6 linked regions of the Homo sapiens genome follow. The protein of the gene in region 5 interacts with the protein of the main gene of each other region in a pairwise test. Each region holds a gene or a part of one and is shown on either strand. Other genes may lie near its edges.

Region 1 (3,500 bases), on a different chromosome or scaffold from region 5:
GTTGGTTAAAAGAGTCAATCACTGGCTCACATGCAGTCGCTGGAAGAAAGTTCAGTGGTGCTCACTCTCAGTCATCAAATGTAGGTGTTTTCCTTTACACCTATAGGATCTTTCATTGTTTCAAGATGGTTTGTGGAGTGTTGTAAAGCTGTCTCAGAGGTGATGCTGAGCAACAGAGACTGAGACTTGTTCACACTGGGTCCCAGGTTCCTATTTGTAGATGTTCTTTCTTTTTTTATTTTTTGAGTGTATGATATTTATTTTCTTTATTCAAATGTGTTATAAGAGTGTCAGTTTCATAGTGTCCTAACAAAACAGAATTCACTATCTTGATCTCTCGTCCCCGCACCCCTCACCATCCCCTAATCTCTCAGACTTAAACCAGAACTTTTCTTTCTGCCTGCATGGCATCTACAATACACATACCCCGAAAATTCTAATTGTAATTGATTTTCCTTTCTTATCCCTGAAATATTGTCAGTCACCAGATCCTGTTGATTCCTTCTCCAAATACTGTACATTCCTTTCTTTTTCTTGCCAGTGCCTTAGTGAAGTCCTTTTCCACCTTTTGCATAATAATTCCATTAGCTCCCAGACTGGTTTTCCTGGTTTCTTAGAGATATCTCTCTAAACTAGAAGCCTTTTATAACTTTCCTTTCATAAAAGGTGAAGTCTAAATTATTTGATGTCTTTCAAGATCATGTAAAATGGTGTGTCAGTTTTTTGTTTCAGTCTCTTCCCCCACCATCCCCTCTTAAATCCTGTTTTTTGAACGGAAGTCTGTCATAATCCTGAAAGACACTGTCTTGAACACCATAATCCCAAATGTTGAAATCTTAAAAGATGAAAGTCCCAAAACTAGGATTCTGTAAAAATAATAAAAAAAGATATTTATTTACATTTTAAAAAGGGGATTTGAGAAACGTATAAAAACATGACAGAACTCTTCATAGGCCACTTTTCACAATAAAATAGGCAATAACATATATATAGGCAATAAACATATATGTTTATTGAAACTATAAACACATATACTAACAATAGTTGCATGGGTATAACAGGAGCAGACAAACCGTATTCATAAAGAATAGGGCGAAAGGTGAAATGCATAAACACATATTATTGTGGTTGGTAATTGTGCACCCAGCTTTGTTACTGCAGTCATCTGAAATACTGTGATGATGAACAAGCTGTCTTTTGATGAGATCAGTCAAAAACCATAGTGAGTCACCACTGCATTTGTAGTTGCCCAGAGAACTGAAATCTTGAGAAATTTTATCTTTTACAAGTGCAGATGTATGATAAAGGACATCTGTTCATTGATTAAGTTTCAGTGTTTTTATATACATACACAATGTTTACCCAGAAAGTAAATGTTGTGGTAATGCATTTTCATGGAGTTAAATTTGCAAAAAATGAATACAGTAAATTAGAACTCTCCAAAAATTTCTACATAATTAAAAAATGCTAACAATTTAAGATAGTGAAAATAAAAACAAAGAAAAAAAAAACACCCAAAACTAAAAAGGAAGTTTGACATAAAAAAAAGTGTATCACAGGGACAGATTATAGGCAGTTGCATGGAGATAGTCCATAGAGCTGGCTGTCTTTCTCAGTCATTAACTATATTTTGAAGTCTTGTACCACGAATAATAGGTGCTTTTTTTCTTTTAGGACATGGTTCTTGGAGAATATGTTCATATTCATTTTCTTCATGAGATTGCTCTTTTTGGAATTCTTCTGTGATTCCTCTGATTGGGATTTTTAGGATTTTTGATGTTAGGGATTTTAATCTAGGAATTTTGATCTTTTGGGATTTCAACATTTGGGATTATGGCTTTTGGGATTAGGAATTCAAACCCCTTTGACATACTGGGCTAAGCTGCTTTTATGTGTGGTTTGGCCAGGTCATAGCAGCTACATAGCTGGCCCAAGACAAAAGTGAGGGACAGAACATTTTGGGGTTACCTAAGGATCTGTGGCAAACCTTTAATTGTTGGGAGCTGTGTAGGAATCAGTAACTTGATTACATTTACAGTTGCCCCTTATACTCATCAGAGTACCTGAAATAGTGCTAGGTACATGAAAAGGATCCAGCGAATTTTTCCTTATCAGTAGAAAAGGAAAATTCTTTTGGCCTAATGAAAAAGAATCATGCTAACAAAGATTATTTTTGAGGTATTTTGTTAGACAATTGTGAATATAGATAAAAAGAGAACTATTAATATAAAAAGAAAAAAGATAGCAGAATCTTTTCCCCATCATTTTCCAAATAAAATACAGAAACATCTTTATTACTGTAGTTTAATACGTTCAGCTTTACACATTGCATTATGATAGGAAACACATTATAGTAAACTCATCTGTTACACCATTCATTTGTGGACTGTGTTCTACAGTGGTACCGAAGTCAGTAACCGGGCAGGGATCTTTGCAGAATGTTAATAGGAAACTCTGAAAAAAAAGTTCAAGGTCAGATCATCCTAGGAAATTGTGAGTAACTGAAGTTAAGTAGATTTCTTTGCTGTAGGATTCTCAGAGGCTTCACTCAGTATGTTCATTGTGAACCTCCATACAGAAGTATAGTGTACAGCTTTTCATAAACTCATTTGACAGGTAAATCCTTTTTTCAGGACATACCTATTCACATTTCATAGAACAAATGTTGCCTAAGACAGTTTGGGAGGTAGCAGTGTAGCATACTAAGGAAATAATGCATTTAAAATGTAAGCCTAACCAGATACATGATATTGTAACTGCCCAGTGGGTTCTCCTTGCCCACTACCCAGACAGAGCTGATTTATCAAGATAGGAATTGCAGTAGAGAGACAGTAATTAATGTAGAGTCGGCTGTACGGGACACTGGAGTTTTATGATTACTCAAATCAGTCTCTCTGAAAACTCGGAGATCTGAATTTTTAAGGATAATTTGGTAGGTAGGGGCTTGGGTTGGAGATGAAATCATAGGGGGTCAAAATTGAGTTTTTCTTGCTTGCTTCTGTTCCTGTGTGGGAGCACAGAACTGGCTGGGCCGGATTACCTATCTAGGTGGCATCAGCTGGTGCATTGGAAGGTCTGCAAAATATCTGGAGCACTGATTTTAGGTGTTACAACTGTGATGTTATACCTGGGAGCAATTTGAGGAGGTTCAGATTCATGCAGCTGGAGGCTGTGTGGCTCCTAAACCGTAATTTCTAATCTTGGAGCTAATTTGTTAGTCCTACAAAGGCTGACTGGTTCCCCAGGCAAGAAGGGGGTTTATTTTGGGAAAGGGTTATTATCATGTTTGTTTCAAAGTTAAACTTTAATAAACTAAGTTCTTTCCCAAGATTAGTTCGGCCTACACCCAGGAATGAACAAGGACAGCTTAGAGGTTAGAAGCAAGATGGAGTTGGTTAGGTCAGATCTCTTTTACATAATTTCCTTGGTTGTAATTTTTGCAAAGGCAAAATTACATCTTTCAACATCTTTTTATTTTTAAGAAGAATAAGAAATTATAG
Region 2 (3,534 bases), on a different chromosome or scaffold from region 5:
GAGAGAGGAACACCATCATGCGAGAGGCACCTTCAGCTCGGCAGCGTGCTGCTCCCGACACTGCTTGAGGGCTTCCTCTTGTTCCTGCTGCTGCTGCTGCAGGGATTCCTACAAGACAAGTCCCAGGTCTGGCCACAGCCCCCCAGAAGGTATCATGCCCAGTTAGGGGTATGAGGGACTGCAATGGGGGCCCAGAGGTATGCAGAAATGACCCTCCTGCAGGGAACCCCACACGCCCTTAGGCAATATGCTGAAGTGTCACATCTAAAGTTGCACCATTCGCATGGTTGACTTAGATTTGCATTTACATTTTATTTTATTTAACAAAACATAGCGCTTACTACATGCCAAGAATGTTCTAAGGGTTTTACATATATTAACTCATTTTCTATAATCCTCCCGTAATACCTAGATGGTAGATATTATTGTTACCCCCTTTTTACCATTGATGAAAACAGGCCACAGAGAGGTCAGATAACTTGCCCAAGGTCACACAGCTAGGAAATGGCCCAGCCAGGATTCAAACCTAGACAAACAACTGGCTCCAGCCTGTGCTCTTCACTGCTACATGACAATGCCTTTCAGTGTATTATGAGATTTCCAGAAAATGGCAACAAAGGTTCTTTTTCCGAGACAGAGTCTCACTCCGTCACCCAGGCTGGAGTACAGTACACGATATCAGCTCACTGCGACCTCTGCCTCCTGGGTTCAAGTGATTCTTCTGCCTCAGCCTCCTGAGTAGCTGGAATTACAGGCGCCAGCCACCATGCCCGGCTAATTTTTGTATTTTTAGTAGAGACAGGGTTTCACCATGTTGGCCAGGCTGGTCTTGAACTCCTGACCTCAAGTGATCCGCCCACCTCGGCCTTCCAAAGTGCTGAGATTACAGGCGTGAGCCACCGCACCCAGCAGGTTCTTGTTCAATAACATCAGTGTATTGCATTAATTTCCTGACAGAAGTACAGTTTCAGGAGAAAGAGGTGCCTTTCCAAATTTGCACAAAGGCAGGGCAGCCTTAACACGTGACAGTCTGTCCTATCTGATGGCCATCCCCTGATCCACTCCAGAGGGCTGCTATTGAGCCAGGGGACTGTGGGGATATCCCTAAGTCCAGAAAATCTCGGGAAGTTCCAGGGCCTGACCACTCCTGCTTCTGTGGTTTGACATGAGGGCCCCAATCAGCCTCTGTTCCTCACCAGGCATCACCAACTCACCTCGGCTTCCTTCAAGCGCCGTTCAAACCAGCCCTTGGCTCCATCCATGGAATGTACCTGAGCTTGAAGTTCTTCCACTGTCTGCTGGAGAGTCTCCAGCTCCCGTGTCCGGGCCTGGGATGGGGCAGACTGTCATGGGCCAGGAAGGCAGAGGAGCGGGCACCTGATGCATGCCACCCACTGGCCTATCAGCAACGCTGTGGTTCCCAGGTTTTAGAGGAAGAAGGGCATCATCATCTACCCACCCACCTTCTCCTCCCGGATCTGCCCACGGAGCTCCTCCTCCTGACGCTTCTTGTCTTCATGCAGCTCTCGGAGCTCACGCTCATAGCGGGCACGCACCCCCAGCACCTCCTTCTCATGCCGTAGACGAACTGCTCCCAGCTCTTCCTTGTGCTGGGACTTCTCTTGCAGCGTTTCCATTGCTAGCTCATCCAGCATGGCCTTCCGCTTCTCCGCACTCTGGGGGCCAGGACGATGGCAGTCAACTTCCTTCCACAACATCGAAAAAAGGCCTCCAACCCTCTTCCCATGCCCAAGGAACTAGCCAAACTCCACTCCCTCCCATCCCCACTGAACTGGCTAAGGCACTCACCCATCCTTATAGAACTGGTCACTTTCTTTCTTTCCCCTCCCACTCTCATGGATTTGGCCAAGAAACTGGTCAACCAGAAACCAGTCAATTTTCCTTTCCCTCCTATCCCCACATGTTTGGTTATATCACCTCCTCCCATCCCCATGGACTGAGCCAATTCCTACCCCCCATCCTCTCCCTTCAACCCTCATGTTCCCCTACCTTCCGAGCCTCCTGTAATTCCTGGGTCAACTGCTCCTTCTCCTGCCCTATTTCTTGAAGTTGTTCCAGCAGTCGACTATTGGCCCGTAATGACTCCTAATGCAGACACCAAAGGGAAAGAGTTTGATAAAGAGCATCCAGTAGGTGCTAGTCACCCAGGACCATCTGGTAGACCATCTCCCTTCTCCCTGGTAAAGTTGGTATTGTGATCTCAATTTCTGGATAGGAAATATAGCAGAGACTGCTAGTTGCTCCCCAGTATTCATTCTTCCTTACTTCCCTAGCAATAAAATTTATCATCGGGCATACAGCTGTCTAGCAGATGTTTCCCCTCCTCCCTTATGGTTAGGTGTGGCCATGTGATTTATTTCTGTATGTGGAAGTGGTGAGTGTAATTTAGGTTATGCTCTTAAAGGAAAGGGGCACACTCTTCCCTGCCCCTTTCCTCCTTCCTTCCAGATAGAATACAAACATGATGGTCGGGGAGTTTCAGCAACCGTCTTGGATGCCAAGATAAAAGTCTTGTGTTGAAGGTGGAGGAACAGCAATGGAGAAAGAACCTGGGTCACAGATGACTGGAAAGCCATCATTCCATCCCTGAATAACCTACCTGGACTTTTAATGAGAGGGAACTAAATTTGTATCTTATTTAATCTACTATTATTCTGGTTTCTATTATGGAATCAGAATGGATATTGCTTGGGAGGCTGAGCCGGGTAGATCTCCTGAGGTCAGGAGTTTGAGAAGCCTGACCAACATGGTAAAACCCCGTCTCTACTAAAAATACAAAATTAGCTGGGCGTGGTGCCAGGCGCCTGTAATCCCAGCTACTCCGGAGGCTGAGGCAGGAGAATCGCTTGAACCCAGGAGGCGGAGGTTGCAGTGAGCTGAGATCGCGCTACTGCACTCCAGCCTGGGCAACAGAGTGAGACTCCATCTCAAAAAAAAAAAAAAAAAAAAAAAAGGAGCCGGGCGTGGTGGCTCACGCCTGTAATACCAGCACTTCGGGAGGCCGAGGCGGGCAGATCACGAGGTCAGGAGATCGAAACCATCCTGGTTAACACGGTGAAACCCCGTCTCTACTAAAAATACAAAAAATTAGCTGGGCATGGTGGCAGGCGCCTATAGTCCCAGCTACTCGGGAGGCTGAGGCAGGAGAATGGCGAGAACACGGGAGGCGGAGCTTGCAGTGAGCCGAGATCACGCCACTGCACTCCAGACTAGGTGACAGAGCAAGACTCCATCTCAAAAAAAAATTAAATTAAATTAAAATTTAAAAAATGAAAAAGAATTGATATCCTAACTAACTGAAGAGGCTCAGTTTCAGAGAAGTGAAATGACTTGTCCCAGAACACACAGGTGCTAATAAGTTAGGGAGCCAGACTGGAACCTAGGTCCTCCTGACTCCAGTCTTCCCACTCCACCTTACTGGGGACTTCACTGGGCCATTACTAGGGAACTAGGAAGAGACAGGCCAGAGCCAAAGGTGTTACCTGGAGCTGGGAGTTGAGGTCATCTTTCTGT
Region 3 (3,534 bases), on a different chromosome or scaffold from region 5:
GGAGCGCCTCTTCCCGGCCACCATCCCTTCTAGGAAGTGAGGAGCGTCTCTGCCGGGCCACCCATCATCTGAGACGTGGGGAGCGCCTCTGCCCCGCCGCCCCATCTGGGATGTGAGGAGCGCCTCTGCCAGGCTGCGACCCCATCTGGGAGGTGAGCAGCGTCTCTGCCCGGCCGCCCCGTCTGAGAAGTGAGGAGCCCCTCCGCCCCGCAGCCACCCCATCTGAGAAGTGAGGAGCCCCTCCGCCCGGCAGCCGCCCCGTCCGGGAAGTGAGGAGCCCCTCCGCCCGGCAGCCGCCCCGTCCGGGAGGTGGGGAGCACCTCTGCCCGGCTGCCCCTTCTGGGAAGTGAGGAGCCCCTCTGCCCGGCCGCCACCCCGTCTGGGAGGTGTTCCCAACAGCTTATTGAGAACGGGCCATGATGACGATGACAGCTGTGTCGAATAGAAAAGGGGGAAATGTGGGGAAAAGATAGAGAAATCAGATTGTTGCTGTGTCTGTGTAGAAAGAAGTAGACATAGGAGACTCCATTTTGTTCTGTACTAAGAAAAATTCTTCCGCCTTGGGATGCTGTTGATCTATTACCTTACCCCCAACCCAGTGCTCTCTGAAACATGTGCTGTGTCCACTCAGGGTTAAATGGAATAAGGGCGGTGCAAGATGTGCTGTGTTAAACACATGCTTGAAGGCAGCATGCTTGTTAAGAGTCATCACCACTCCCTAATCTCAAGTACCCAGGGACACAAACACTGCGGAAGACCCCAGGGTCCTCTGCCTAGGAAAACCAGAGACCTTTGTTCACTTGTTTATCTGCTGACCTTCCCTCCACTATTGTCCTGTGACCCTGCCTAATCCCCCTCTGCGAGAAACAACCAAGAATGATCAATTAAAAATAATAATAATAATAATAATAATAAATAAATAAATATAAATCTGATGACAGTGGTTGCCTCTGTACAGAGGTGGGATCAGACAAGGCCACTAATGGCTCCAACAGTGTCATTGTACAAATTAGAAAAAAGTACCTACATTGGGCTAAGCACCTGGAAAGGGGCCCTTCCTTCTCAGCCTTGGCAGGGAAGAAACTCACCTGCAACCTTGACTGAGAACTACAGTATAAGATAGGAACTTTGGGGAAAGGTGTTTAGTGAACTATTTTGTTTAAATTTACCACCAGGCTGAGCACGGTGGCTTATGGCTGTAATCCCAGCACTTTGAGAGGTGGAGGTGAGCAGATCATGAGGTCAGGGTTTCAAGACCAGCCTGACCAACATGATGAAACCCTGTCTCTACTAAAAATACAAAAATTAGCCGGACAGGGTGGAGTACGCCTGTAATGCCAGCTACTCAGGAGACTGAGCAGGAGAACTGCTTGAACCTGGGAGGTGGAGACTGCTGTTTAAGCCAAGATCGCACCACTGCACTCTAGCCTGGGCAACAGAATAAGACTGTCTCCAAAAAAAAAAAAAAAAAAAAAAAAAAAAAATTACAATTATTTCACCTCTGCAGATTAGAAGGAGGGGAAAGAGTATATTTTTCATTTTATATTCTTCAGGAAAACTTATTTTTTAAAAAAGCATATTTACCACTTATAAAAAATTTTTTTAAAATAAGAGACAAGGTCCCACTCTGGCTCCCAGGCTGGAGTGCAGTAGCGTAACACAGCTCACTGCAGCCTTGAATTCCTGGACTCAGGCAATCCTCTTGCCTCAGCCTCCCAAAGTGCCAGAATTAAAGGTGTGAACCATATGTCTGGCCCGTATTTATCCCTTTTATAATGAAAATTAAGAAATATGGCTGGGAGCGGTGGCTCACACCTGTAATCCCAGCACTTTGGGAGGCCGAGGCGGGTGGATCACGAGGTCAGGAGATCGAGACCATCCTGGCTAACATGGTGAAACCCCATCTCTACTAAAAATACACAAAATTAGCCAGGCGTGCTGGCAGGCGCCTGTAGTCCCAGCTACTCGGGAGGCTGAGGCAGGAGAATGGCCTGAACCTGGGAGGCGGAGCTTGCAGTGAGCCGAGATCGCACCACTGGACTCCAGTCTGGGAGACAGAGTGAGACTCCGTCTCAAAAAAAAAAAAAAAAAAAAAAAAATGCTTCCATGTATTTCTCCAAACAGAGTGGTTGCAGAACATTTTGTTACAATCGTAGGGAAGAAAATGTCTTAACATCTTGACTAAAACACAGGTAGTATCAACGCTTAGAAACAACTCAGTTATCATAATTCTATAACCATGCAGTATTCCATAAAATCCAGAAAACAGTCTGTGTATCACTAATGTCAGAACGAACAAGGTCATTAAAAAAGACATAATGCCAAGTGAAATAAGCCAGTCAGAAAAGAACAAACACATGAGGTCCCTGATAGTAGCCAAATCCATATAGAAAGAAAGTAGGATGGTGGGTGCCACTGGCTTGGGAAGGGGATGGGGAGTGAGTGTTTAATGCGGACAGAGTTTCAGTTTGAGAAGATGAAAGAGTTCTGAAGATGGATGGTGGTGATAGTTGCATAATAATGTGAATTTACTTAACAACACCAAATTGTATATTTAAAAATGATTAAAATGGTAAATTTTTTATTACATATATTTTACCACCACCACCACCACCACAAAAAAAGCATGGTAGTATACTTACACATTCAGATCATAATAATTCTTAAAATGAATTATTTCCTCAATAAACCCATTTGCTACATCTGGAAATCTTGCTTCCTAGAAACAAATAAGAACATAATTTATATTTCATTCACTAGAATGGTTTCAAATGGCAATACAAGACAGATGGCAAAAAGTATAATAAAATGACTAAAGACTAGAAAAGGGCTGTGAAGCAGGTCTGTGTGTGTCTTCAAATTCAACACTAGTTCCCAGATTCATCTGTCTACATAGAAGATGAGGTCTAGAAAGGTCTTGAGAGATCTGGTTCTCTGTCCCCATTTTACAGATCCATTCTTCATTGCTTCAACAAATATTGAGCATCTCTGTCTAGACAAAGGGAATCCAAACACAAATAAGTTACAATCTCATGCCAGCCCTCAAGCAGCACACAACCTAGTGCCTAGATAAAAACACCTGGGTGGCCGGGTGCAGTGGCTCATGCCTATAATCGAAGCACTTTGGGAGGTCGAGGCAGGCGGATCACCTGAGGTCAGGAGTTCAAAACCAGCCTGGCCAACATGGTGAAACCCCGTCTCTACTAAAAAAATACAAAAATTAGCCAGACGTGGTGGTATGTGCCTGTGATCCCAGCTACTCGGGAGGCAGAGACAGAAGAATCGCTTGAACCCAGGAGGCGGAGGTTGCAGTGAGCTGAGATCGCACCACTGTACCCCAGCCTGGGTGACAGAGTGAGACTCGGTCTCAAAAAAAAAACAAACCAAAAACAAAACAAAAAAAACCCGCCTGGGTAAAGTAGGGTTAACGGACTTGTTTGAAGGCAAATAGTGGCTACCAGATGTAACACCTTTTTTTTTTTTTTTTTTTTTTTTTTTTTTTTTTTTTTGTGAGATAGAGTCTCACTCTGTCGC
Region 4 (3,534 bases), on a different chromosome or scaffold from region 5:
TCTTCTTTGATTCATATCTCTGTATAGCATTGTAGGAGATAGCAAAGCCTCAGGTTCAAAAAGCTGGAGGCGTCAGGCTGCTTGGATTCAAATCCTGGCTCCACCAATTATTAACTTTCCTATGCCTCATTTTATACCCATGGCAAATGAGAGTAGTAACAATACCTATCTGTTGGATCCTTGTGAGGAGAAAGGATTAAAGGAGAAAGCACATCAAAACATTTTAGCCCAATCTGACACTAATTAAATATTAGTTTTATTGTATTCATTTTATTAAATAACCTTGTTCCTTTTTTACTGCCTCCAACTCTGCTGCCTGTGTCCTGTCTCTTTAACTGCACTTTTGACCTCCCTGCCTTTCCTCAGGTGTAGCTTCCCTGAGGCGTGCCACTGCTCTGTTTTGTGTCCGAATGCTTTTCATCGTTCCAGTGGCATCTCATTTCTCCCTCTTTTGAATCCTCAGCAGATATTTAAGCTATTACAATTTTTTATGCTACTTTCATACTTTTGAACGCAGGGTAGGTCTTGCCCATCTTTATAGTACATCTGTATAAGGTGTATAATGTACTGAATTGAATATTAATAGGATAGATTAAATTCTTTCTTATGTTTGGGTATTTCCTTCCTTTAAAAGGCAACAAAATCCACTGTGATAGAAAATGAACAGTGCTCAACCGCCATGTTTTGTTTATTTATTTATTTAAGATAGGGTCTTGCTCTGTTGCCCAGGCTGGATGCAGTGGTGCATTCATAGCCCACTGCAGATTCAACCTCCTGGGCTTAAGTGATCCTCCCACCTCAGCCTCCTGAGTAGCTGGGGCTACAGATGTGTGCCACCATGTCAAGCTAATTTAAAAAAAAATTTTTTTTTTTAGAGACAGGGTCTCACCATGTTGCCCAGGCTGGTCTTGAACTCATGGGTTCAAGTGATCCTCCCATCTCAGCCTCCCAAAGTGGTGGGATTATAGACATGAGCTACCATGCCTGGCCTCTCCATGTATTACTATTTTCTAGCTATCAGTTTTAATTTTCTAAAGACTTCATTTCATTATTAGACACAGTTACTTCAACATTAGGAAAGTGTCTTGCAGTTTTTAAAAAAATCAGACATAAAATCCGGGTTAGCAAGAGAATTATAGACTTGCTTGTATAAAATACATTAAGTTTCTTAACCAGAACTTATACTTTAAGCAAAGCCCTTGTATACGTCCCATTGTTCAGCTGGAAGAGTATCTGTTCTTTTATCTTAGATATCTGTGTGTTTTTATTTAGGAGAGGTTGTAAGGAGTGAACACTCCTTGCTTTTACAGGTTACATCCTGTTATAAGGAACTCTGCAGGGTATCTACATTGTAGAGTAATTTTATTTTAGTGACTACATTGTTAAAAGTCACATTCCCAAGCGTTAGGAGTTACAGGAATTGGAAGCAGAACAGATCCAGGCTGGGTGTGGTGGCTCACGCCTGTAATCCCAGCACTTTGGGAGGCCGAAGTGGGAGGGTAACTTGAGCCCAGGTGTTTGAGATCAGCCTGGGCAATTTAGTGAGACCTTGTTTCCACAAAAAAAATTCAAAAATTAGCTAATCGTGGTAGCTCACGCCTGTATTCGCGGCTACTCGAGAGGCAGAGGTGGAAGGATCACTTGAGCCTGGGAGGCGGAGGTTGCAGTGAGCCAGGTTCATGCCACCTCACTCCAGCCTGGGCAAACAGAGCAAGTCCATGTCACAGAACAAACAAACAAAACAGATCCATTTGTCTCTCTTTTTGGGTAATGAATTAAGAGTTCTGAACATAATAGAGTGCGTGGTTTCCCGTGCTTCTTTGCCTTAAAACCTATGTCCTTCAGTCCCTTCTGCATTTAATATAATGTGCATTCTTTGCATGCTTACCAAGTAGAAATTTTTTGCTTAGGATGGAGCGATAGTGAGTTTAAAACTATCTATAGAGTTATAGAAAGCTTAGCATTCTTTCCCACAAGGGGAATTTATTAGAAAGCTAAATGTCTTTGGTAAAACACCAAAATCTTACATACAGATGCTTCTCACTCTTACACAGAGAGTTCCACTGAGAAGGCAGAAGAATAAGGTGCCCATAGTCATTTAGGAGTCATTTCAAATGGTGCTCTATAGTCTTCAGTGCCACCATGCTGGGAGGGCTGACCCTCTTTTCAGTCAGGTCTTTTCCCTTACCTGTTTTCTGCTTGGGTTCCAAATAGGATTTTTGTCTAGAGGGTGAAAAAGAAGGCATCCTACTTAAGGCCTGAAAAGCACACTTCAGAGAATTTTATTTGACTCAATGAATGATGCTTTTCTGACTGAGCACCTTCTTGGTGCCAAAAGCACTATATTAGCCACTAGGGACACAAAAAATTAAAACATTCAGATCCTGGAGAACTTTTCAGTCTGGTAATAGAAATATTTATAAACAGATAAAATGGTACCTCATAAGGCTTATTACAGAGACATAAGCACAGAACTTGGAGAATGTGGAGAGTGAGCTTAGCAGAAGCTTCACTGGGTAAGATACTTGTGTTGTTAGCGTCAGTCAGGCATTTATAGGGAGTAATGTAGTCCTTTAGAACCCTTTGCTATTTTTACTTATAGGGAAAACTTCAATTTAGCAGTGGGAATGATTCTTATTTTAGTATGGTATTACATAAAATCTTATCTTTATCCTAATTTTTGATCATTTACAAATTTGATTTCTGAAACTTTTAGTGTTCATGAAGATTTTCTGTGGTTTTGTTTTTAAAAGATTTTTTTGTCCTCTAATCCCATGTGCATCTATCTTTACACAGTTTATGAAGTATTAACTGCTGCTGTTTCCCATTAAAATCAACTTTTGAACAGAAACTAAATATAGTTGCTTTCTCTCCTAAAATAGAACTTTTCAGAAAGCTCTGGGAAAGTTTCAAAAATTAAAAAAAAAAAAAAAAAAAAAAAAGACTGCTTATGTAAATTGTTTTCTTGCAGTTGTTAACTTGCTTATTGAATACTAAAAATTCTGTCTCCACTCAGGTATACCATACTTTTCACGATGAGGTGGATGAGTATCGGCGACACTGGTGGCGCTGCAATGGGCCGTGCCAGCACAGGCCACCGTATTACGGCTATGTCAAACGAGCTACTAACAGGGAACCCTCTGCTCATGACTATTGGTGGGCTGAGCACCAGAAAACCTGTGGAGGCACTTACATAAAAATCAAGGAACCAGAGAATTACTCAAAAAAAGGCAAAGGAAAGGCAAAACTAGGAAAGGAACCAGTATTGGCCGCAGAGAATAAAGGTACCTTCGTGTATATTCTTCTGATTTTTATGTGACCATAGCTATGATGTAAAGACAATACTGTCCTTCAGAGAACTGGTATTAAGATAAACTTAAGGATCGTTTCTGGTGTAGAAGTCTTCAAGTGTAGACTTAAGGAAAAAATCCCACTGTCCATGAAATGATGGTAGGAAAACAGACTTTGCTCTGTACAGAAGTAAGTAAAAGTAGGAATAGTTTCCATGGATATTTTTATTTTTATTAACTTTTT
Region 5 (3,534 bases):
AGAAACAGGAGATGACATTGCTCAAAGATGACTATGTAAGACTAAACACACTTTTCATCCCCTGTGCTTCCTAAAAGAGTACAGCAGCAACAAAAAGCAACTCCATCAGCATTCTTTCCATCCAGCGCAAGATGAAACTTGCCCTGAATGAACAGGTAAGAACCTATTTTCTAACACCAAACAATCTCTATATTATTATGAGAGGTATTACAATTTTTGTTTCACTCACTGATAACCTATTTCTTGTAGCTTACAGGAAAAAGCAGAGGGCTTTCCTTTTTTCTGAGACTGCAAAGAAGGGCTCTGAGATACCCCAGGGAAGAGTCATTGTTACCCACCATAAATGGTTAATGTGCTTTCATTTTCCAACGTAAAAACCAAATCGTTAAGATCAGAAGCTTATAATTCTACTGCCCTATTTCCCTTTGCTAATCCATTAACTTGTATTAGGGCAAAAATGTTCTGAATCATTTATCAAAAGCTGCTGTATGTAAACACAGAGATTTTTAAAAAGCCATGTTGTAAATGTCCTGTGTTACTTTGTAAATAAGCAGAAAATAATATGTCAAACTTCTCAACAACCTACCCTGCCCTATAGCTCTTACAATGGCAACTTTTTAAAAAATGTGTGTGTATGTGTGTGTATTTCTTCCCTATCTGTCTAGCACAGCTCATTAAAAAAAACAAATTGAGAAAGTGGGCAACTGAATATTTCTAATGAAAACATGATGGTAACTATAATGTCCTACAAAAATACTGGCCTGTTCATTTTACTTTGATTAACTATTACCTCGGTATTTAAAAACCATTGATACAGGTTCCCGTGTATTCCAGGTCTGGTGCTTGGGTCCAGCAGTGATGCACTCTCCTATGTATACTCTAGCTACACCCTGACAAAATCAGCACTGAAGAAGAAGAAGCATCCCACCCATTTGACAGATGAGTAACTGAGGCCAAGAGGCACAGAACTTATAAAGGTGACTCTGCTGATATGCAAAATAAAGGACCAAAGAAATCAATAAAACTCATCCCCAAAATTATAGTTTAAATATCCCTTAAATATTAAAGTAGTATTTGATTAGTATGATAAAAAATATTTACTATCATTTAACTGGTAGTAACCATAATCTTTATGTTAGTTTTTCGTTTAGTCCATTGATTTTTCTTTATGTTTATTCACTGCGATTTTTTTTACAAAGGTTCACCCTAAAGTTCACCAATGTCTGTCTCTTTACGTGAAAGTAGAACCTTGCCAAAGAATCATGGACTCAAAGGATGATCATGAATTTAGATCAGTGACTTAAAGCACAGACATAGATGTATACAACTGATAAAGAATAATAGGGCACTCAGAGAGGAGTAAAAAACAACAACCAATTCTCTACCACTCATCTGAAATATCTCCCAAGGATCATGCATGTCATCAAAGGTAGGAATTTTGTTTCTGAAGGAGGAGAGACAACCCAATGCAACTCTCTCTCCTCTTTCATTAAATCTAGTGCAGTGTGGCCGACTGAGTCTCCCATACCCCAGTGGAATCTACTTAACCCCAGTGGAACCTAGCTAACTCCCTTACCCAGTGGAATCTAGTTAACATTAACTCCCATACCCCAGTGGAATCTAATTAAACCCAGTGGAACCTAGTTAACTCCCATACCCCAGTGGAATCTAGTTAACATTAACTCCCATACCCCAGTGGAATCTAATTAAACCCAGTGGAACCTAGTTAACTCCCATACCCCAGTGGAATCTAGTTAACATTAACTCCCATACCCCAGTGGAATCTAATTAAACCCAGTGGAACCTAGTTAACTCCCATACCCCAGTGGAATCTAATTAAACCCAGTGGAACCTAGTTAACTCCCATACCCCAGTGGAATCTAGTTAACATTAACGCCCATACCCCAGTGGAATCTCGTTAACTCCCACACCCCAGTGGAATCTAGTTAACACTAAACGCACCCCCCAAACCGAGAGCTAGGACAGCACAGCTGAAGACAGACACTGAGATCCTCCCTTAGCCACTCACCTCCAGTCAAATGCCAGGTTGTTTTTCAAGATGGCTCATCTCTTAGCTTCACGAATTTTGGGAATAATAATATATTGAGTGATTTACCGGTGATACCAGGAAGAAATCAAATGCTCAGAGTGCTCAAAAACACAGACTACGTTAAAAACTCTCCCTTCAAGTTGCTGAAAGTATGAATGAAAACTATGAAAAAAGATGCTTTATAGAATTTGTTAATTCTTAAGTGTTTTTTAAAATAGATAAAATATACCTTCAAAGTTCAAACAAGTGAAAGAAGCCTCCAAAATCTCAGGCTCAGGGCTCTCTTAAGGAAATACATATGAAAAAATATCCTTGAACTATACTGTGTTCAACAAATAGTCATTTCAAATAAATATATTTGTCTCTTGAACCTAATTTTGTATCAAATACACAAGCAAAATTTTCAGTGAAGCCTAAAGAAGATGTGTGGGTTCAGTTGATATAGCAGGCTAAAGATCCTAATGGTCAAAGCTTGAAATATGAGGATATTCTTCTACTGTGTTCCTATGTGGGTTTGAAGTAACCTTAGACATAAGTTGGCACTTCCATTCAACTACCTAGCTTCATATGCCAATAAAACTTGTGAGTGAATAAATAAACATGGCATATCCATACAATAAAATAGGAATGAAGTACTGAGACTTGCCGCAGCATGGATGAAGCTTGAAAACATGCTAAGTGAAAGAAACCAATCATAAAAGACCACATATTATATGATCCCTTGTATATGAAATATCCAGAACAGACATATCTACAGAGACTGAAAGTGGGTTAATCAGTGGGTGGCTAGGGGTGGGGGTGGTGGAGAATGAGGAGTAACTACTCAAAACTTTAGGGTTGATAAACATTTTCTAAAATTGTGGTGATAGTTGCACAACTGTGAATTTACTAAAAACCATTGACCAGTACACTTTAAATGCTAAATGGGTAAGTTGTATGGCATGTGAATATATGTCAAAGCTGTGTTCTTTTTTAATTCTGCAGTTCTCAACTCATAATCTTCCAACTTTTTTTTTTATAGAAACCTTAGTTTAGCTGTCTTTGAATTAGTTACAATGTCCTATCAAGCCCATTTCTTTTATAAGTACATACTAAAATACTAATGGCTGAAGTTGTGATACCTGGAATTTGCCTTAAAATAATCCAGGGGTGTTAGGAAGGGGGAGCAGCGTTAGGTATAAAGTGGCCATGTGTTGATAGCTACTGGGTGAAGGGTAAAATGCGGGATCATTACACCCTTCTTTCTACATTTGTTGAGTTTTTAAATTTTTATAATAAAAGATTTAAAATTGAAGGGAATGGTTCTTCGGACTGCCCACTCAATCCTATGCTGGTTATATTTTCTTGTGATAAAAATACACACATTGGAATATATACAGATGAAATGTGACACCTGAGATTTGCTTCCAAACAATAAGAGAATTTAATCTCACAAATGGACTAGGGAGCACGAAGGATCTAATTCCCACCCTGCTTGGAATATT
Region 6 (3,534 bases), on a different chromosome or scaffold from region 5:
GGTGATCCACCTGCCTTCCAAAGTGCCAGGATTACAGGTGTGAGCCACCGTGCCCAGCCTTCCATTTGCTATTTCTTTCTTTTTTTAAATTTATTTTTTTTTTTTTTTGAGACAGAGTCTCACTTTGTCACTCAGGCTGCAGTGCAGTGGTGCAATCTCAGCTCACTGCAGTGTCCACCTCCCAGGCTCAAGCAATGCTACTGCCTGAGCCTCCCATGTAGCTGAGACTACAGGCGCCCACCACCACACCCGGCTAATTTTTGTATTTTTTGTAGACGGTTTTGCCCTATTGGCCAGGCTGGTCTCACACTCTCAGGCTCAAGCGATTTGCCTGCCTTGAACTCTCAAGTACTGAGATTACAGGTGTGAGCCCCCGCACCTGGCCTGTTTGCTATTTCTTAAACAACTCTAATTTTATAAGAAATTTGAATATCTCAGTTTTATAGTCTTAAAGTGACTATACAATTTTTGCCATCTGTTGGAAACAACTCTCGACACTCTTCAGTTCTGGTTAACTCTAAAATTTCTGCTGAAACCCACTTCGGTTAAACATTCCTACTCTACTCGATATTTTGCTTCTTCGCAGCAAGTGGTCTTCCTAGGCGGCCAGGACTCATTTAAGGAAATATGTCCCCATGCTTTTTATTTTATTTTGAAGGAAAAATTCAAGTTAGTTAAAGACCTGAATGTATAATACTGGATGAAAAATAAAAATAAATAATAAGCCTTAACTTGAACAGTTGAGCTGTTCATAAAACTGCCCTCCCATCACTGAACTAGACTGCAGCTCCATGTAAATGGCAGTTTCCTTCTCCCAATTAAATGTGCATTCCTGGGCTGGGCACAGGGTACAAAATAAAGAGATAGTTAAAAAATAAAAAGCCCAAAGTTGCTCTGGAAAATAAGCATATGATTTGTGAAGCAGTATGTACATCAGTGTGGCTGGATCATCACCAAGTAGTGTGGCTATAAATGGCAATCAGGGGCAAAGTGCTCACACCTGTGATCCCAGCACTTTGCGAGGATGAGGCAGGAGTATCACTTGAGCTCAGGAGTTCAAGACCAGCCTCGGTAACATAGTGAGACCCTATCTCTACAAAAAATAAAAAAATTAGCCTGGCGTAGTGGTGTGTGCCTGTGGTCCCAGCTACTCAGGAGGTTGAGGTGGGAGGATTGCTTGAGCCCGGGCGGTGGAGGGTACAGTGAGCCAAGATCGCTCCCTGGCATTCCAGCCTGGGCGACTAAGTGAGACCCTGTCTCGAAAATAAAATAACATAAACTAAATTTGCACTTTCTGCCTCAATATTTATTTTGAAAATTTTCAAATCTACAGAAATTGCAAAAATAGTATGATAAACCCCCGTTTAACCTGCATTTAGATTCATGAAGTTTTTAAACTGCCACATTGCCTTTCGTGTGTGTGTGTGTGTATTTTCTGAACCATTTGAAAGTTGCATGATCATAACCCTTCACCAAATCCTTACGTGTCCACCTCATAAGAGATGCTGTCCTTATCTCTTGATTTGATATACAATGATCAAGTTCAAGAAAATTAACATTGATATATTACCCATCATATCAATGATAAAAATTTCACCAACTATCCCCATGTCTTTAATAACAACCTTTGTCCTAATCCATGTTCTAATCCAGGGTCATGCACTGCATTTAGCTGTCATTCTCTTTTAATCTCCCTTTCAACTAGAATGATTCCTAAGGCTTTGCCTTCATGACACTGACATTTTTGAGGTACTAACAACTACGTTTTGTAGAATTTCAATTTGGGTTTTTGTTTTCTCACAGTTAGATTCAGGTTATGCCTTATACTCGTCCTATCAGGAGGACCGCAATGTTTGTTTGTTCCATGGATAACGTTAACTGTGATCACTTCATTACTGTGGTAACAGGCTTCTCGACTGTATCCTTCACCCTTTGTAATTAATAAGCAATCTGTAAGATGATATTTTCAGACTATATGAGTCCTCCGTTCTCCGGCAAATTTTCAAGCAGGGATTTTGGCATCCGTTTGTAATTCTTGCCTGCATCAATTTTTACAGTGACAGTCGCAAACAGAAAGGAAATTTAGACATTCTAAGGCTGATTCTTCCCTACTATAGGATTCTTTTTTGAGAAATCCAAATGTAAAACACACCTGTCTCCGTCACACTAATTCACTTTCAAATACTTCATTTTTTAAAGCTATCTCATATGTGCTTTCTTACAACCTTCCTTCCATAAATTAAAAATACATAAAGTAAATGAGTAGATTCACTTTATGTATTATGTGTTAACAAAGTTAACACAGAAACACCAATTATATTTTTATAAATTATCAATGAACAATACTGAAAATTTTTTAAAATTTACTTAAAACAGTCTCAAAAGCCATAATATAATTAGGGATAAATATTAGTTTCTTAGGGCCACCATAGAAAAGTACCACAAATTGCGTGACTTGAAAATACAGCAATTTATTTTCTCACAGTTCTGGCTAAAAGTCCAAAATAAATGTGTCAGCAGGGCCATGACACTTTTCAAACTTGTAGGGGATCCTTCCTTGCCTCTTCCTTGCTTCTGACAGTATGCTGATAACCTTAGACGTTCCTTGGGTTGTAAATACATCACTCCAGTCCTCCAGCCTCACGTGGTACTCTGTGTCTTTACATCATCTTCCTTCTGTGCGTGTCTGTCTCTGTGTCCAAATTTCTCCTTTTTATAAGGAAACCAGTCATAATGGATTAGGGCCCATTCTAATGACCTTATTTTAACTTCATTACTGAAAAAAATTGAAGGTGACCTACACAAACAGAGAAATATACTATTTTCATGGATACAAGGACTCTGTTGCTGTTTGGATGTCAATTCTCCCCAAATTGTTCTATTAAGTTCAATGCAACCCCAATCAAACTCCTAACAGGCTGTTAGTAGAAACTGGTAAGTTGATTGAAAAATTTAAATAGGCTGGGTGTGGCGGTTCAGGCCTGTAATTCCAGCACTTCAGGAGGCTGAGACGGGAGGACTGCTTGAGGTGAGCTGTTCAAGACCAGCCTGGGCAGCATAGCAAAACCCCGTCTCTACATACAAAGAATAAATATACGGAGGACGGGCACGATGGCTCACGCCTGTAATCCCAGCACTTTGGAAGGTCGAGGCAGGAGTATCATCTGAGGTCAAGAGTTCGAGACCAGCCTGGCCAATGTGGTGAAACTCCCGTCTCTATTAAAAATACAAAAATTAGCCAGGCATGGTGGTACATGCCTGTAATCGCAGCTACTCAGGAGGCTGAGGAAGGAGAACTGCTTGAACCTGGGAGGCAGAGGATGTAGTGAGCTGAGATCACGCCACTGCACTCCAGCCTAGGCAACAGAGCAAGACTCTGTCTCAAAAAGAAAAAAAAAGATTTACTCTAAAGTCACAGTAATCAAGACAGTGTGACACTAATATTAGAATCAACGGATCAATGAAATAGAATAGACCCACATTATTTTTTTTAAAAAGTCTTTTCAACAAAAGGTACAGAAATAACTGATACCC

What was found.
Region 1: the proteins of ENTREP1 (region 5) and MYO6 interact in a two-hybrid assay, tested with the Homo sapiens proteins (one large-scale study listed by IntAct).
Region 2: the proteins of ENTREP1 (region 5) and GRIPAP1 interact in a two-hybrid assay, tested with the Homo sapiens proteins (one large-scale study listed by IntAct).
Region 3: the proteins of ENTREP1 (region 5) and RNF216 interact in a two-hybrid assay, tested with the Homo sapiens proteins (one large-scale study listed by IntAct).
Region 4: the proteins of ENTREP1 (region 5) and SPRTN interact in a two-hybrid assay, tested with the Homo sapiens proteins (one large-scale study listed by IntAct).
Region 6: the proteins of ENTREP1 (region 5) and RNF168 interact in a two-hybrid assay, tested with the Homo sapiens proteins (one large-scale study listed by IntAct).

The regions. Positions count from the first base shown.
Region 1 is NC_000006.12:75,881,739-75,885,238, forward strand, and holds part of MYO6 (unconventional myosin-VI), read left to right. Parts: coding exon 1-80; intron 81-3,500. UniProt on the Homo sapiens protein: Myosins are actin-based motor molecules with ATPase activity. Unconventional myosins serve in intracellular movements. Myosin 6 is a reverse-direction motor protein that moves towards the minus-end of actin filaments.
Region 2 is NC_000023.11:48,981,765-48,985,298, forward strand, and holds part of GRIPAP1 (GRIP1-associated protein 1), read right to left. Parts: coding exon 3,504-3,534; intron 2,107-3,503; coding exon 2,011-2,106; intron 1,677-2,010; coding exon 1,464-1,676; intron 1,329-1,463; coding exon 1,215-1,328; intron 109-1,214; coding exon 31-108; intron 1-30. UniProt on the Homo sapiens protein: Regulates the endosomal recycling back to the neuronal plasma membrane, possibly by connecting early and late recycling endosomal domains and promoting segregation of recycling endosomes from early endosomal membranes.
Region 3 is NC_000007.14:5,736,634-5,740,167, forward strand, and holds part of RNF216 (E3 ubiquitin-protein ligase RNF216), read right to left. Parts: intron 2,720-3,534; coding exon 2,643-2,719; intron 1-2,642.
Region 4 is NC_000001.11:231,348,288-231,351,821, forward strand, and holds part of SPRTN (DNA-dependent metalloprotease SPRTN), read left to right. Parts: intron 1-3,016; coding exon 3,017-3,284; coding exon of another isoform or gene 3,285-3,319; exon of another isoform or gene 3,320-3,534. UniProt on the Homo sapiens protein: DNA-dependent metalloendopeptidase that mediates the proteolytic cleavage of covalent DNA-protein cross-links (DPCs) during DNA synthesis, thereby playing a key role in maintaining genomic integrity.
Region 5 is NC_000009.12:69,328,195-69,331,728, reverse strand, and holds part of ENTREP1 (endosomal transmembrane epsin interactor 1), read right to left. Parts: intron 2,405-3,534; exon of another isoform or gene 2,030-2,404; intron 1-2,029. UniProt on the Homo sapiens protein: Functions as an activator of the E3 ubiquitin protein ligase ITCH in the ubiquitination of the CXCL12-activated CXCR4 receptor. Thereby, triggers CXCR4 endocytosis and desensitization, negatively regulating the CXCL12/CXCR4 signaling pathway.
Region 6 is NC_000003.12:196,493,763-196,497,296, forward strand, and holds part of RNF168 (E3 ubiquitin-protein ligase RNF168), read right to left. Parts: intron 2,710-3,534; exon of another isoform or gene 2,452-2,709; intron 1-2,451. UniProt on the Homo sapiens protein: E3 ubiquitin-protein ligase required for accumulation of repair proteins to sites of DNA damage. Acts with UBE2N/UBC13 to amplify the RNF8-dependent histone ubiquitination.